Homo sapiens: one gene and its partner. The protein of the gene in region 1 interacts with the protein of each later gene in a biochemical or structural test. Each region holds a gene or a part of one and is shown on either strand. Other genes may lie near its edges.

Region 1 (7,025 bases):
TCGCGGAAGGCGACGCGCATGCCCGAGGTGAGCGGCGAGTGCAGCACCACCGCGGCACACTCGTAGCGCGAGGCCAGGTCCATGGTGGGCACCGTGCCGATGCTCTGCCCGTACAGGATGATGCTGTCCGGGCTGATGCCGTACCTGGCGGCGCCGGAGCAGGGTCAGCCGCGGCCTCCAACGCGCGCGCACCCTTCCCACCAGCGGGCGTCCCCGGGCCCAGCTCCGGATGCGACCCTCCAGTCTCCCCACTCAGCCAAGTCAGTGGGTCAGGCTCAGGCTCCACACCAGTCCCGAGGGCCACCCCCAGCCCCCAACACCGTGGCGGTGGGCGAAGCCAGCGGCCCCGCCCCGTTCCCTGCGCTGCCGTTCACTGGCGTTTCCTAGCTAGGATCTGCAGGGATCCTGCCTACGGAGTGCCCCTGGGGCGGGGGTAAGGGAGGCCCTGGCGCCTCTCCTCCTCCTGGTCACCCCTAGGTGCACACTGGGAACTGTGTGGCCCCCACATCCTGAATGCTTCATACCTTCCTGCCCGGGTTAGAAAGCCGTTCCTGGTGCACTGGCCAGGACAGCGGACACTCTTCCTCCCTGCAGCCCTTGCCCACCCCCTTGGCCATGAGGAATTCAGGCAGCTGTGTCCCCAAATGTCTCCACCCAATTTTGGACTCTCGGAGTCCCCACGCCCAGTGAGATGCCAGTGCAACCCAGGTCAGCATCGAGGGTGGTGGCTGCGGAGGTGGCACCCCCTCCCACCAGCACCTTCCCTTGGGAGTGGACAAGTCCTCGGCCACCTCAGCACCACCAGCTCCCACCCAGGGGCACCCTCACCCCCAGGTCATTGGTGTGCGGCCCCTGACCCAGCTGATCCAGCACCAGTTACAAGGCCTCCTCGTGCCCAGTCCCAAGCACGCGGGACCCACCTGCCACCCTGCCCATGCCGGGACCCCACAACTCTCCTCCCACACGCTCTAGGCTCTGATCCCAGGCAGACGCCCTCTTGCAAGGCAGGAGCATGGGCAGGTGTGCGTCCCCTCTGCCTGGCATTCGGACTCCACCAGCAGGGCTGTCCCCGTCCCTGGCCTGGAATCCCAGCCTCCTGGCAGCACTCCACAGCTCGCCACTCACCCATGCCCCAAAGGATGCTGCCTGGCTGGTGCCTGTGGCCCCAGCTCTGCCTCGGCCTCCCCGGCCTGCTCCCTGGCAGCCATGGTCAGTAGTGTGCTGAGCCAGCCCAGCCCTGCCACCTGCTACAGGCAGGAGCCCCCAGCTGCCACCTGGATGTCACCACTCAAACGAACGGGACACATCCCCAGTGGAGGCCCTGGGCACGCTCTGGCCTCCCCCTCATGGCTCTGGGCCTAGGTTCCTGCAGGACAAAGGGGCAGCAGGACAGATGGCCGAGCAGACAGAGCTCAGAGCTGGCCATGGCAGGTGTGACTCTGCCAGTGGCCCAGGCAGTAGAGACAGGAGGGGCCGAGGAAGCCGCATGAAGTGGTGATTGGTGTCAGCGTCCCACAACTGCCGGGAGGCCCCTGGAGCCAGGGTGGTGCCAGGGGACCAGCTCCCAGGCCCACAGCAGGGACTGCCTGCATATCACCAAGGCAACGACGACCCCACCTCCCTAGGGCCTCTGACTTCTCAGAGCTGTGCCTGGTCCCTGCGGGAGCAGGTCAGACCAGTGGGCTGGGCAGGGCCAGGACGAGACAGGCCCAGTGGATGGCGAGCAGGAAAAGCCACCAGAGGCCCAGCCGGGTCTCCTCGTCCAAAGCAGCACTGGCCCGGGCGCTGCTCAAACACCGGTGAAGGGCCCAGGCAAGCACAGGGCTGGGGACGTGGATGACTAGGAGGGCTGGATCTGGAATCGAGGCTGGCCCAGACCTCGGATGTGTGCTGCGGGTCTGCACCTTACCCTGTAGGCCCTGCCCCAGGATGGCCAAGCTCCGCAGCCACAGGGCCTCATGGGCCAGTCCTCCGGACCTGGATGCAGCAGCCTCGCCTCACTTGGCCCCAAGTGCTGCCTCAGCCGATGGGCTCCCAGCCACACGTGCACAGACCCCCAGACCACCACCCACTCCCTCCCGCCAGGTGGCATCCACACCCCTGTGACAAGCTCAGCCCCTTCCCATCCTCAGGCCAGGGGTTCCCAGGGAGCCTGGCTCCACAGGCCAGGGTGTGGGAGGACCGCCTGGCCACACCTCAGCCATGTGGAGGCGGCACCTGCACACCCAAGCTCGCCTGTCCGGCTCTCTGGCCCTGTGCATCCACTGTGGCTCCCCTCCTGCAGGGCCGCCCACCTTCCTCCCAGGGAAGCCCGCCCCCCGGCCCCCCGCCTGGTCCCCTCTTGGGTGTGCCCAGGCTGAGCTGCCCCCAGGGTCGCCCTCACCTGGTGCGCAGGGCCTGCCAGGTGGCGTCGATGTCGGCATAGAGGTTCCTCTCGGAAGGCCTGCCCGAGCTGGCACCGTAGCCGGAGGAGTCGTAGGTGAAGATGTTGCAGTGGAGGCGGGAGCCCAGGCCAATGTAGAAGCTGCTCATCTGGCCCAGGTCCACGGCATTGCCGTGCGAGAAGAGGACCGTGTACCTGGCACCAGGCACGCAGCGAACATACATGCAGGAGACACGGTTGCCGCGGGCGCTCTTGGTGGGGAAGACCTCGATGGTGTCCAGCTCGCGCTGGCTGTACTGGAAGTCGGCACGCTCCGTCAGGTGCAGCTTCCAGCGCCCGGGTGCGCCCGAGGAGGCTCTCAGGGTCCCCAAGGGGGCGGCCCCGGCCCCACCAGGCCCCAGCTCGGGCTCAGGCACCAGGGAGTAGGTGGCCTCCGGCGGCAGGAAGGCGAGCTTGGCAGCGATGCGGCCGGGGCAGGGAGGGCAGCAGAAGAGGCAGCAGAGCTCACTCAGCGACAGCCCGTTCATGGCGGGCGCCGCCCGGGCCGGGCCTCCACCGGGGCCCCCGCCAACAACGCCGCCCGGCCTGGCCCGGCAGGGGAGGGGTGGGGTGCTCCGAGTCGCGGGCAGGGGGGAGAGCGCCCCCCCAGCTACCGCCCCAGACAGCAGCCCCGTTAGGAGGCCAGGGCCCAGCCCCATCGCGGTCCAAGCCGAGCCCCAGGGAGCCTCGCAACCACAGGTCTCCATGTCGTGCCGTGGGAAGCCCACCCCGGCCCGCGCCCCCGGGCCCCAGGGCCGCGCTCCATGGCTCCCGGCCGCCCGCCCGTGCGTCCGTCGGTCCCTCCGCACCCCTGCCCCTAAATCTTTTTATCCAGTTTTCATTGATATGCTTTTCTGTTGATTTGTAATACTTTATTCTGGATATGCATCCTTTCTAGGATATATATGGATTGCATTTCTCTTTTTTCAATCTGCAGCTTGTGTTTTCACTCTTTTAATGACGTTTTTTCATGAATGGAGATTCTCTAATTTTTTTTCTTTTTGAGACAAGATCTCACTCTGTTGCCCAGGCTGGAGTGCAGTGGTACAATCACAGCTTAGTGCAACCTCGACCTCCCAAGGCTCAGGTGATGCTCCTGCCTCAGTCCCCAAGTAGCTGGGACCTACAGGAGACCACTACCATGCTCAGCTGTTTTTTGTATTTTTACTAGACATGGGGTTTTGCCATGTTGCATAGCCCGATACGGAATTCCTGGGCTCAAGTGACACCTGCCTCGGCCTCCCAAAGTGTTGGGATTATAGGCATGAGCTACCGCACCCGGCCAGAGTATCTTAATTTTAATGAAATATACTTTATCAATCTTTTCCTTTATGGTTACTGCTTATTGTGTCCTGTTTAAGAAATCAATGCCTGGCCAGGTGCGGTGGCTCATGCCTGTAATCCCAGCACTGTGGGAGGCCTAGGCAGGTGGATCACGAGGTCAGGAGTATGAAACCAGCCTGGCCAACATGGTGAAACCCCGTCTCTACTAAAAATACAAAAATTAGCTGGATGTGGTGGCGGGCACCTGTAATCCCAGCTACTCAGGAGGCTGAGGCAGGAGAATTGCTTGAACCCAGGAGGCGGAGGTTGCAGTGAGCCGAGATTACACTACTGTACTCCAGCCTGGTTGACAGAGCAAGACTCTGTCTTGTACCAAAAAAAAAAAAAAAAAAAAAAAGAAAGAAAAAAGAAATCAATGCCTAGCCTAAGAATATGAACACACTTTTCTATATTAACCTTATAGCAATTTTATTTTAGTTTTTGCATTTTTTTTTTTCAGACAGGGTCTTACTCTGTTGCCCAGGCTGAAGTGTGTTGGCATAATCTCAGCTCACTGCCACCTCCACCTCCTGGCTCAAGCAATCCTCCTGCCTCAGCCTCCTGAGTAGCTGCGACTATAGGCGTGTGCCACCATGCCTGGCTAATTTTTGTATTTTCTGTAGAGATGGGGATTCAACATGTTTCCCAGGTTGGTCTCAAACCCTTGGGCTCAAGTAGTCTGCTTGCTTCAGCCTCCCAAAGTGCTGGGATTACGGCATGCACCACCATGCCCAGCTAATTTTTTATTTTTTGTAGACAGGGTCTTCCTGTGGTGCCCAGACTAGTTTCAAACACTTGGGCTCAGTTGATTGTCACACCTTGGCATCCCAAAGTGTTGGGATTACAGGTGTGAGCCATCACATCTGGCCATTTTAGTTTTAATAATTTTTATATTTTTCTAATTTAAAACAGGTACTAAAATCTCTTACAGCTATTATTTGTAAATATAGTATTCATTATTGTTATTATTTTTTTTTGTATGTGTTCAATCTCATTTTCAATATAAGCTCCTGGAAATTAGAGATTTTGTTTCTTTTATTCACCACTGTATTCTCAGTACTTGACCTCGCCTGGCATGAAACAGATATTGAATAAATATTTGTTAAATGAATGAATGAATGAACATACTAATACCATATTCAGCAATCTCCAAGTGTCACGGTTTTCACCATCTAACAAATAAAATAGCTTGTATAGAGCAGAATCATAGTCAAGCTGCCATAAAAGGAAATGCCAATGAAAAATAAACCTTTGTATGTGTAGCTGCTAAGATTTTGGGGCTTTTGTTACTGCAGCATAACCTAGTGAAAGCTCAGTGAGACAGCCTGTAGAATATACGGGTACAGATAGACCAGATAGACCAGTAGATGAGATTCCAAAGAAGCATTAACTACGCCCACACACTCTTAATTCCCTAACAGAAAGAATCGAATTCTTGTTCACTAAGATCTACCTCAAATATTCCTTACTTTGTGAAAACTTCCCTGGCTACTCAAATATTTAGTCAGAACTCTATTTTTTTCCCCCCAGGCTGGAGTGCAGTGGTGCCATCATAGCTCACTAACCTCTAACTCAAGGCTCAAGGAATCCTCCTGCCTCAGCCTCCCGAGTAGCTGAGAGTGCAAGTGTGCGCCACCATGCTCGGCTAATTTCTCATTTTTTATTTTCAGAGATGGGGTCTTACTATGTTGCACAGGCTGGTGAGGACTGTTGATTACATATGACAGAAACCCAACCAACTCTAGTTCCCCACCACCTTTCAATCTGCTCCTGCCTGGGTCTTCCCAGTCTCGGTAAATGGCAGCTTCACCCTTCAAGTTGCCCAAGCCCCAAATCTCAATGTTAACCTTGATTTCTCTCTTTTATCTCATAGGCATTCTGAAGGCAAATCCTGTTTAGACCCAGGCAAAGGTTCCTGGTGACCCAGGCTCTCATGAGCAGATTGTCCCTTATCATTCTCCTGAGGATGTCTGGAGCTTCAGTGCTGTGTGCTCTTGGCCTCCACACTGGGGGTGCCACCAACTCCCACTGTCCAGGGCTTCTGGTGGACTCTCCGAGGCACCGATGTAGAAACTTACCCATTCAGTGCACCAAGAGCAGCTTCACATGGTGTGGGCCGACATGAAGAGCTGCCAGATCCAACAGGTAAAAATCCTGAGGCATTGCCAGCTCGATGGGGTCAGAGAGTCCTCTTTCTATTATGACTCAGATGTGAAGGGAAGATGCCAAGGGCCCTAAACATCACAGGGCCTTGCCTGGCATCAAACAGATATTAAATAAATATATGTTAAATGAATGAACAAATATTCACAGCGTGTGCCGCCCTGGACTTGCAGTGCCATGGTCGGGTGAAAGTGATTTTACTTCAGGAGAGGACATGTTCTCTTCAGGACTTTTCCTTGGTAGCTAGATCTGCATCCCTCTCCTCTCTCTTCCCCTCTCACCCCCCATTCTCTGCCCCCATTTCTCTCTCTGTTTCCACCCTGCTGTCCTCTTTCACCTGCTTTCTCCTCTTCAGCTTTCATGGCTCACCCCCTCCCTGTCCACCCGCATCCCCCAGGCTAAGGCTCTGCACTGTCCTGGGTGGGGAGATGTGTGTGGTTTTAGGCAGTGCCCTCTAGATGTGTCCAGGATGGGGAAACATGGCTCAGTTGCCAGTATAATGGGTTAAAAGAGAGACCACTTTTGAAGGCCGATCCCATCTCCCATTCCAGAATCCTGTAGGACTTAGAATTTATGGGCCACAGTGGAATTCTTGGTTCCCCAGGACCTTGTGGTGGACGCCTTCTTTCACTGACCATTCATGGGGTGACTATTAGGTACCATGCCCTGCTCTGGGCTAGAGGCCCCATAATGAGTAAATCTCAGGTCACTACCCCACGGAACCCACCACTGCAGGCATTGAGAGGGGGAGAAAGAAAGGGGCATGGCCTGTTTGTATCCTTCTCACGTGGCTGCCCACCAGGTCCTGGGGGAGTGGGAGCCAGTGCAAGGAGGGAAGTCCAGTGAGAATGACAAATGGACGATGTCAGACCCAGGGGCTGAGGCCCCCACCTGCAGCCGGGCAGCTTCTGGAGTGGACAAGGAGCAGCAGGGAAGGTTGCGGCCTGGTGTTCTGGGATCCACTGTCTCATCTCATTCTTTGGGGCACCAGAACTTATCCAAAGACAAGACTCAGTGTCTCTGGCAACAGCGGGCCAGAGGAATAATGTGTTTCAGAGGAGGAAGAAGGGGTTGTACCCCATGGAAACAGTATATAGTTTTACAGTAGTGCGTCTCT
Region 2 (7,025 bases), on another chromosome or scaffold:
CTCCTCACTTGTCACCAGTGTCACTTGTCAACAGTGCACCTCATATGTCACGTTACCTGTTCTGTTATGGAAGGTGACGTGAGGTGTCCTGAAAAGGGGGCAGGTCCACGACATGGCGGAGCTGACAACAACACCCCCCCAACCTGTACATTTGCTTTTAGCATAATGCAACCTATTGCAATTCACCTAGGCCTAGTTAAGTAGATTTCCTGATAACACCCTGGTTTTTGGGGAGAAAAGGAGGGGAGAAGCAAACTTTTTATTTAGGCTGGGAGCAGTGGCTCACACCTGTAATCCTAGCACTTTGGGAGGCCAGGGAGGGAGGATTACTTGAGCACAGGAGTTCAAGACCAGCCTGGGCAACTTAGCAGGGCCCGTCTCTACCAAAAAAAGGTTAAAAAAGAAAAAAAAATATATATATATATAACATTAATACAGAAAAGTCTACCACAAATCATAAGTGTAAGGTTTCATGAGTTTTTACTACACAAGTATAACCACCCTCCAGGGCCAGGCGTGGTGGTTTATACCTGAAATCCCAGCACTTTGGGAGGCCAAGGTGAGAGGATTGCTTGAGCCCAAGAGTTCAAGACCAGCCTGAGTGACACAGCGAGACCCCCATCTCTAAAAAAATTAAAATCAAGTATTTTTTAAATTTTATTTTTTATTTATGATTTTTTTTTTTGAGACAGAGCCCTGCTCTGTGCCTCAGCCTTGTAAATAGCTGGGATTACAGGTGTGTGCCACCATGCCCAGCTAATTTTTGTATTTTTAGTAGAGACAGGGTTTTACCATGTTGGCCAGGCTGGTCTCGAACTCCTGACCTCAAGTGACCTGCCCACCTTGGCCTCCCAAAGTGCTGGAATTACAGGTGTGAACCAACGCACTGGCTCAAAACATTTTTTTAAAACCACCCTCCAGATTGGGATACAGAGCATTTCAGCACTCCATAAGCCTCACCTGGCCACTGTACATGCACAGAATTGCACAGTGAGTCCTCGTTTGCATCTGGCTTCTCACACTCAACGTCATGTTTCTGACATTTATCCATGCAGCTGTGTGTAGTTATAGTTTGTTCATTTGCATTGCTGGATAATATTCTATTGTATAAACACAGCAAAATTTACTTGTCTACAGAAGATGGACATTTGAGCTGTTTGCAGTTTTGTTTTGTGTTTCTTGAGACAGGGTCTCGTTCTGGTCCCCCAGGTTGGAGTGCAGTGGTACCATCTCTGTTCACTGTAGCCTCAACCTCCCAGGCTCAGGTGATCCTCCCATCTCAGCCTCATGGGTAGCTGGGACTATAGGCACGCACCACCATGCTGGCTAATTTTCTGCATTTTTAATAGAGATGGGAGTTTCGTCATGTTGCCTAGTCTGGTCTTGAACTCTTGGGCTCACGTGATCTGCCTGCCTCAGCCTCCCAAAATGCTGGAATTACAGGTATGAACCACCACACCCGGCCTGTTTCCAGTTTTTGACCACCAAAAATAGTGCTGCTAGGCCAGGCATGGTGGCTTATGCCAGTAATCCTAGCACTTTGGGAGGCCAAGACAGGAGGATCACTTGATGCCAGGAGTTCAAGACCAGCCTAGGCAACATAATGAGACCTCATCTCTACAAAAAATTGAAAAATCAGCCAGGCGTGGTGGTGTACCCTTGTAGTCCTAGCTACTCAGGAGGCTGAGGTGGAAGGATTGCTTCAGCCCAGGAGTTTGAGGCTGCAGTGAGCTGTGATCACCACTGCACACTTCAGTCTGGGCAACAGAGCAAGACCCTGTCTCAAGAAAAAAAAAAACTACTGCTAAGAACATAAGACTTGAGCATGTATATCTACATGCATATGTACACTTTTCTGGTTCCATACTTAGGGGTATAACTATAGAGTCACAGAGCATTCATATATTTAGCTTTAACAGATTCTGCCAAATGGTTTTCCAAAGTCATTGTACCAATTTAGACTCCTATCTGTAGTTTGCAAGAGATCCTTGTCAATATCTGGCACTTTCTTTTTCATCTTTTCCATTCTGGCAGGTATGTAATGGTGTTGCATTGTTTAATTTGCTTTTCCCAAATAACTAATTAAGTTGAGCATCATTTAACATACTCCTTGGACATATATGGATTTTTTTGTGGCATGCTTATTCATGTATTTTGCTTTTTTTTTTTTTTTTTGAGATGGAGTCTCCCTCTGTCATCGGGCTGGAGTGCAGTGGCACAATCTCAGCTCACTGCAACCTCTGCCTCCCAGGTTCAAGTGATTCTCCTGCCTCAGCCTCCCGAGTAACTGGGATTACAGGAACACACCACCATGCCCAGCTAATTTTTGTATTTTTAATAGAGACAGGGTTTCGCTATGCTGGCCAGGCTTGTCTCGAACTCCTGACCTCAAGCAATCTGCCCGCCACAGCCTCCCAAAGTGCTAGGATTATAGGCATGAGCCACCGCGCCCAGCCCTCTTTTGCCATTTTTTAAAATTGAGCTGTCTATCATGTTCATTTTGTAAGGGTTTGTAAGGGTATTTATATACGCTGGATACAAGTTTCACTACTGTATATATGTACAGTACTGAAAATATCTTCTCCCACTTTTTTCTTTTTGCTTTCTCCTTCTTTTTTTTTTTTGAAACACAGTCTCGCTCTGTCACCCAGGCTGGAGTGCAGTGGTGCTATCTTGGCTCACTGCAACCTCTGCCTCCCAGGTTCAAGAGATTCTCCTGTCTCAACCTCCCAAGTAGCTGGGATTACACACACCTGCCACTAAACCCAGCTAATTTTTGTGTTTTTAGTAGAGATGGGGTTTTGCCATGTTGGCCAGGCTGGTCTCGAACTCCTGACCTCAAGTGATCCACCCACCTCCGCCTCCTAAAGTGCTGGAATTACAGTCATGAGCCACTGCGCCCGACCTCTTTTTGCTTTCTTTTTTTTTCCTTTTTTTTTTTTTTTTTTGGAGACAGAGTTTCGCTCTTGTGGCCCAGGCTGAAGTGCAATGGCGCCATCTCAGCACACCGCAACCTCCACCTCCCGGGTTCAAGTGATTCTCCTGCCTCAGCTTCCCAAGTAGCTGAGATTACAGGCATGCGCCACCACGCCCGGCTAATTTTTGTATTTTTAGTAGAGACAGGGTTTCTCTATGTTGGTCAGGCTGGTCTCGAACTCCCAACCTCAGGTGATCCACCCACCTCAGCCTCCCAAAGTGCTGGGATTACAGGTGTGGGCCACCGCGTCCGGCCTCTTTTTGCTTTCTTAATGCAACCTCCGCCTCCCGGGTTCAAGCGATTCTCCTGCTTCAGCCTCCCAGGTAGCTAGGACTATAGGCACGCACCACCACATCCAGCTAATTTGTGTATTTTTAGTAGAGACGGGGTTTCACCATGTTGGCCAGGATGGTCTCAATCTCTTGACCTCGTGATCCACCTGCCTCGGCCTCCCAAAGTGCTGAGATTACAGGTGTGAGCCACAGCTCCCAGCCAGAAGTTCTTAATTATAATGAAATCCAATTATTTATTTATTTATTTATTTATTTTGAGATCAAGTCTTACTCTGTCGCCCAGGCTGGAGGGCAGTGATGTGATCTCAGCTGACTGCAACCTCTGCTTCCTGGGTTCAAGCAATTCTCCTGCCTCAGCCTCCTGAGTAGCTGGGATTACAGGCGCCTGCCACCACACCCAACTAATGTTTGTACTTTTAGCAGAGATGGTGTTTCGCCATGTTGGCCAGGCTGGTCTTGAATTCCTGACCTCCCAAAGTGCTGGGATTACAGGCATAAGCCACTGCACCCAGCCCAATTTATTATTATTTCTTAATGATTAGTGCTTGTATTGTATTTTTAAAATGTTTGCCTACCCCAGGCTGGGTATGGTGCCTCATGCCTATAAATCCTAGCACTTTGGGAGGCAGAGGCAGGCAAATAACTTGAGTCCAGGAGTTCAAGACCATCCTGGGCAACATGGCAAACAAAACCCTGTCTCTACCAAAGATACAAAAAATTAGCTGGGCATGGTGGTGTACGCCTGTGGTCCCAGCTATTCAGGAGGCAGAGGTGGGAGGATTGCTTGCGCCCAGGAGCCAGAGGTTGCAGTGAGCTGAGATTATGACACTGCACTCCAGCTTGGGTGACAGAGTGAGATCCTGTCCCCCGCCCCCCAAAAAAAATTGCCTACCCCAAGGTCATGATGATATTTTCTGTTAACTTCTGGTAATATTATTGTTTGCATTTCACATTTGTGACTATAATTCATCTTGAATTAATATTTGTATATGATGTAAAACAGGGGTTAGTGTTCTTTTTTTCCCCATATATCACCCAATTTTTTATTTTATTTATTTATTTATTTTTTTTTTTGAGACAGAGTCTCATTCTGTTGCCCAGGCTAGAGTGCAGTGGCGTGATCTCGGCTCACTGCAGCCTCAACCTCCCAGGTTCAAGCGATTCTCCCACCTCAGCTTCCCAAGTAGCTGAGATCACAGGCACGCGCCACTAGGCCCAGCTAATTTTTGTGTCTTTTGTAGAGACGGGGTTTCGCCATGTTGCCCAGGCTGGTCACGAACTCCTGAGCTCAAGCGACTGGCCCAACTTGGCCTCTCAAAGTGCTGGGATTACAGGCCTGAGCCACCACGCCTGGCCTATATTATTCAATTTTAATTTATATCACGCACACAGCTTACAAAGAATCCTTCTAAGAAGCCATAGACTGAAGAGAACAACAATGACGGCACAAGTGAGCAAAAAGAAAACAGCCGACCTCTCACTGCTCCTCCTGGGCGTAAGGTCTTCCTTCACTACATTATGAAATAAAAGCAGTAACGGGTTAACTGGATCTGACAAGAAATGGGCCAAAAAAGGCAGGAGGAGGGGTTGGTATCTTTTCAAGACTATTTGAAACAAGGTTTTATATCCATTATCATTAAAAGAGAATTCAAAGTATGAATCCATCACAATCAGCAAGATATGTATCCAATGAGAACAGGAAAAAAAACTTCCAGGCTGTTTTCATTAAGGGAGAAATTGATCTCACTAAAATTAATGATAAAAGTTAAGAAGCTTCTTTGGAATGTATGTAAAACATACAATACATAAGTATATGTATATGTAATTTATAAATAAATGAAGGTATTTGGGGTTATGTGCTCATGACAGCTTTCCTGGTAGTTACGTGTTTGAATTAAAAACAATCATACAGTGGCTCACGCCTGTAATCCCAGCACTTTGGGAGGCCAAGGCAGGTGGATCACCTGAGGTCAGAAGTTCGAGACCAGTCTGGCCAACATGGTGAAACCCTGTCTCTACTAAAAATGTACAAAAATTAGCCGGGAGTGGTGGTGCTCACCTGTAATCCCAACTGCCTGGGAGGCTGAGGCACAAGAAACGCTTGAACCTGGGAGGCGGAGGTTGCGGTGAGCCGAGAACACACCACTGCGCTCCAGCCTGGGTGACAGAACGAGACTCTGTCTCAAAAATAAAATAAACTAAAATAAAATCATAAAAATAAAAAGAATCATAGACCAGCAACTTAGGGGATGGCATTTGGGCCTGGGCACAGCACTTTAGAACTTGGACAAACCAGAGTGCTTCCAGCTTGGTAGTGGAGGGGACGGGGTGGGGACCAAGATGCAGAGGGGGGTTGATGCTATGTCACCATCCAAAACACATTGTAAGGCCCTGGCACTGTTTCTGCTGGAGAAGAGAAAGAGGTTAGAAGAGGGAAAAGCATTAATCTTATGTCTGTAATCTTATGTAAAGGACAGAACAAAAATAAAATAGGAATATCCATGAATAAAGTTCTGGAGACTGAGGCAGGAGAATCGCTTGAACCCAGGAGGTGGAGGCTGCGGTGAGGGAGATCGTGTCATTGCGCTCCAGCCTGGGCAACAAGAGTGAAACTCCGTCTCAAAAATAAATAAATAAATAAAGATGAAAATGCTAGGGTTTGGGGTAGTTTCCCAATTTTCCCAAGGTGCATAGCCATGATCAGTTGGCTGAAGGTGTATATGCGTCTGCGTGTGTGTGTGTGTGTGTGTGTATGTACCTGTACACACACATATATGGTATACGTGTATATACATATGGTGTGTGTGTGTCTATATACACATGTATATACTTATCCTTGTATTAGTAACATGTGAGGCACATCATTAAAAGATGCATTTTCGGCCTGGTGTGGTGGCTCATGCCTGTAATCCCAGCACTTTGGGAGGCCGAGGCAGGTGGATCACTTGAGGTCAGGAGTTCAGGACCAGCCTGGCCAACACAGTGAAACCCCGTCTCTACTAAAAACACAAAAATTAGCCAGGCGCGGTGGCATGAGCCTGTAATCCCAGCTACTCGGGGGGCTGAGACAGGAGAATCACTTGAACCTGGGAGGCAGAGGTTGCAGTGAGCCAAGATCACGCCACTGCACTCCAGCCTGGGTGACAGAGCAACACTCCATCTCAAAAAAAAAAAGTTAAAAAAATGCATTTTCACTCATCATATTGGCAAAAATTAAAAAGATGAATAATACCCATGGTTGATGAGGATGTGAAGAAAAAGACACTGTTATTACTGGTGGAATCAGAAGATGCTATAATTCTTTCAAGGGCACTCAAAACTTGGCAAAATTGTCAATGTGTACACTTTTTGGACAGCAACTCTACTTCTAAAATTTTACACTCCAGAAAGACTTGGACATGCTCACACCCAATGTTCTCTATTGTTGATAACAGTAAAAAATAAGAAACAATCCAAACAATTTGGGTGTAGCCAAATAATTTGTGGCACATTCTTTTTTTTTTTTTTTTTTTTTGAGACAGAGTCTCACTCTGTCGCCCGGGCTGGAGTGCAGTGGTGCGATGTCGGCTCACTGCAAGCTCCGCCTCCCAGGTTCACACCATTCTCCCGCCTCAGCCTCCCGAGTAGCTGGGACTACAGGCGCCTGCCACCACACCTGGGCAATTTTTTGTATTTTTAGTAGAGATGGGGTTTCACCGTGTTAGCCAGGATGGTCTCGATCTCCTGACCTTGTGATCTGCCCGCCTTGGCCTCCC

The links.
Region 2: the proteins of NBPF11 (region 1) and CBY1 form a complex in vitro, tested with the Homo sapiens proteins (one study listed by BioGRID).

Annotation. Positions count from the first base shown.
Region 1 is NC_000001.11:148,142,280-148,149,304, reverse strand, and holds part of NBPF11 (NBPF family member NBPF11), read left to right. Parts: exon of another isoform or gene 1-144; intron 145-2,383; exon of another isoform or gene 2,384-3,239; intron 3,240-5,618; 5' UTR 5,619-5,890; intron 5,891-7,025.
Region 2 is NC_000022.11:38,659,621-38,666,645, reverse strand, and holds part of CBY1 (protein chibby homolog 1), read right to left. Parts: intron 1,101-7,025; exon of another isoform or gene 961-1,100; intron 1-960. UniProt on the Homo sapiens protein: Inhibits the Wnt/Wingless pathway by binding to CTNNB1/beta-catenin and inhibiting beta-catenin-mediated transcriptional activation through competition with TCF/LEF transcription factors.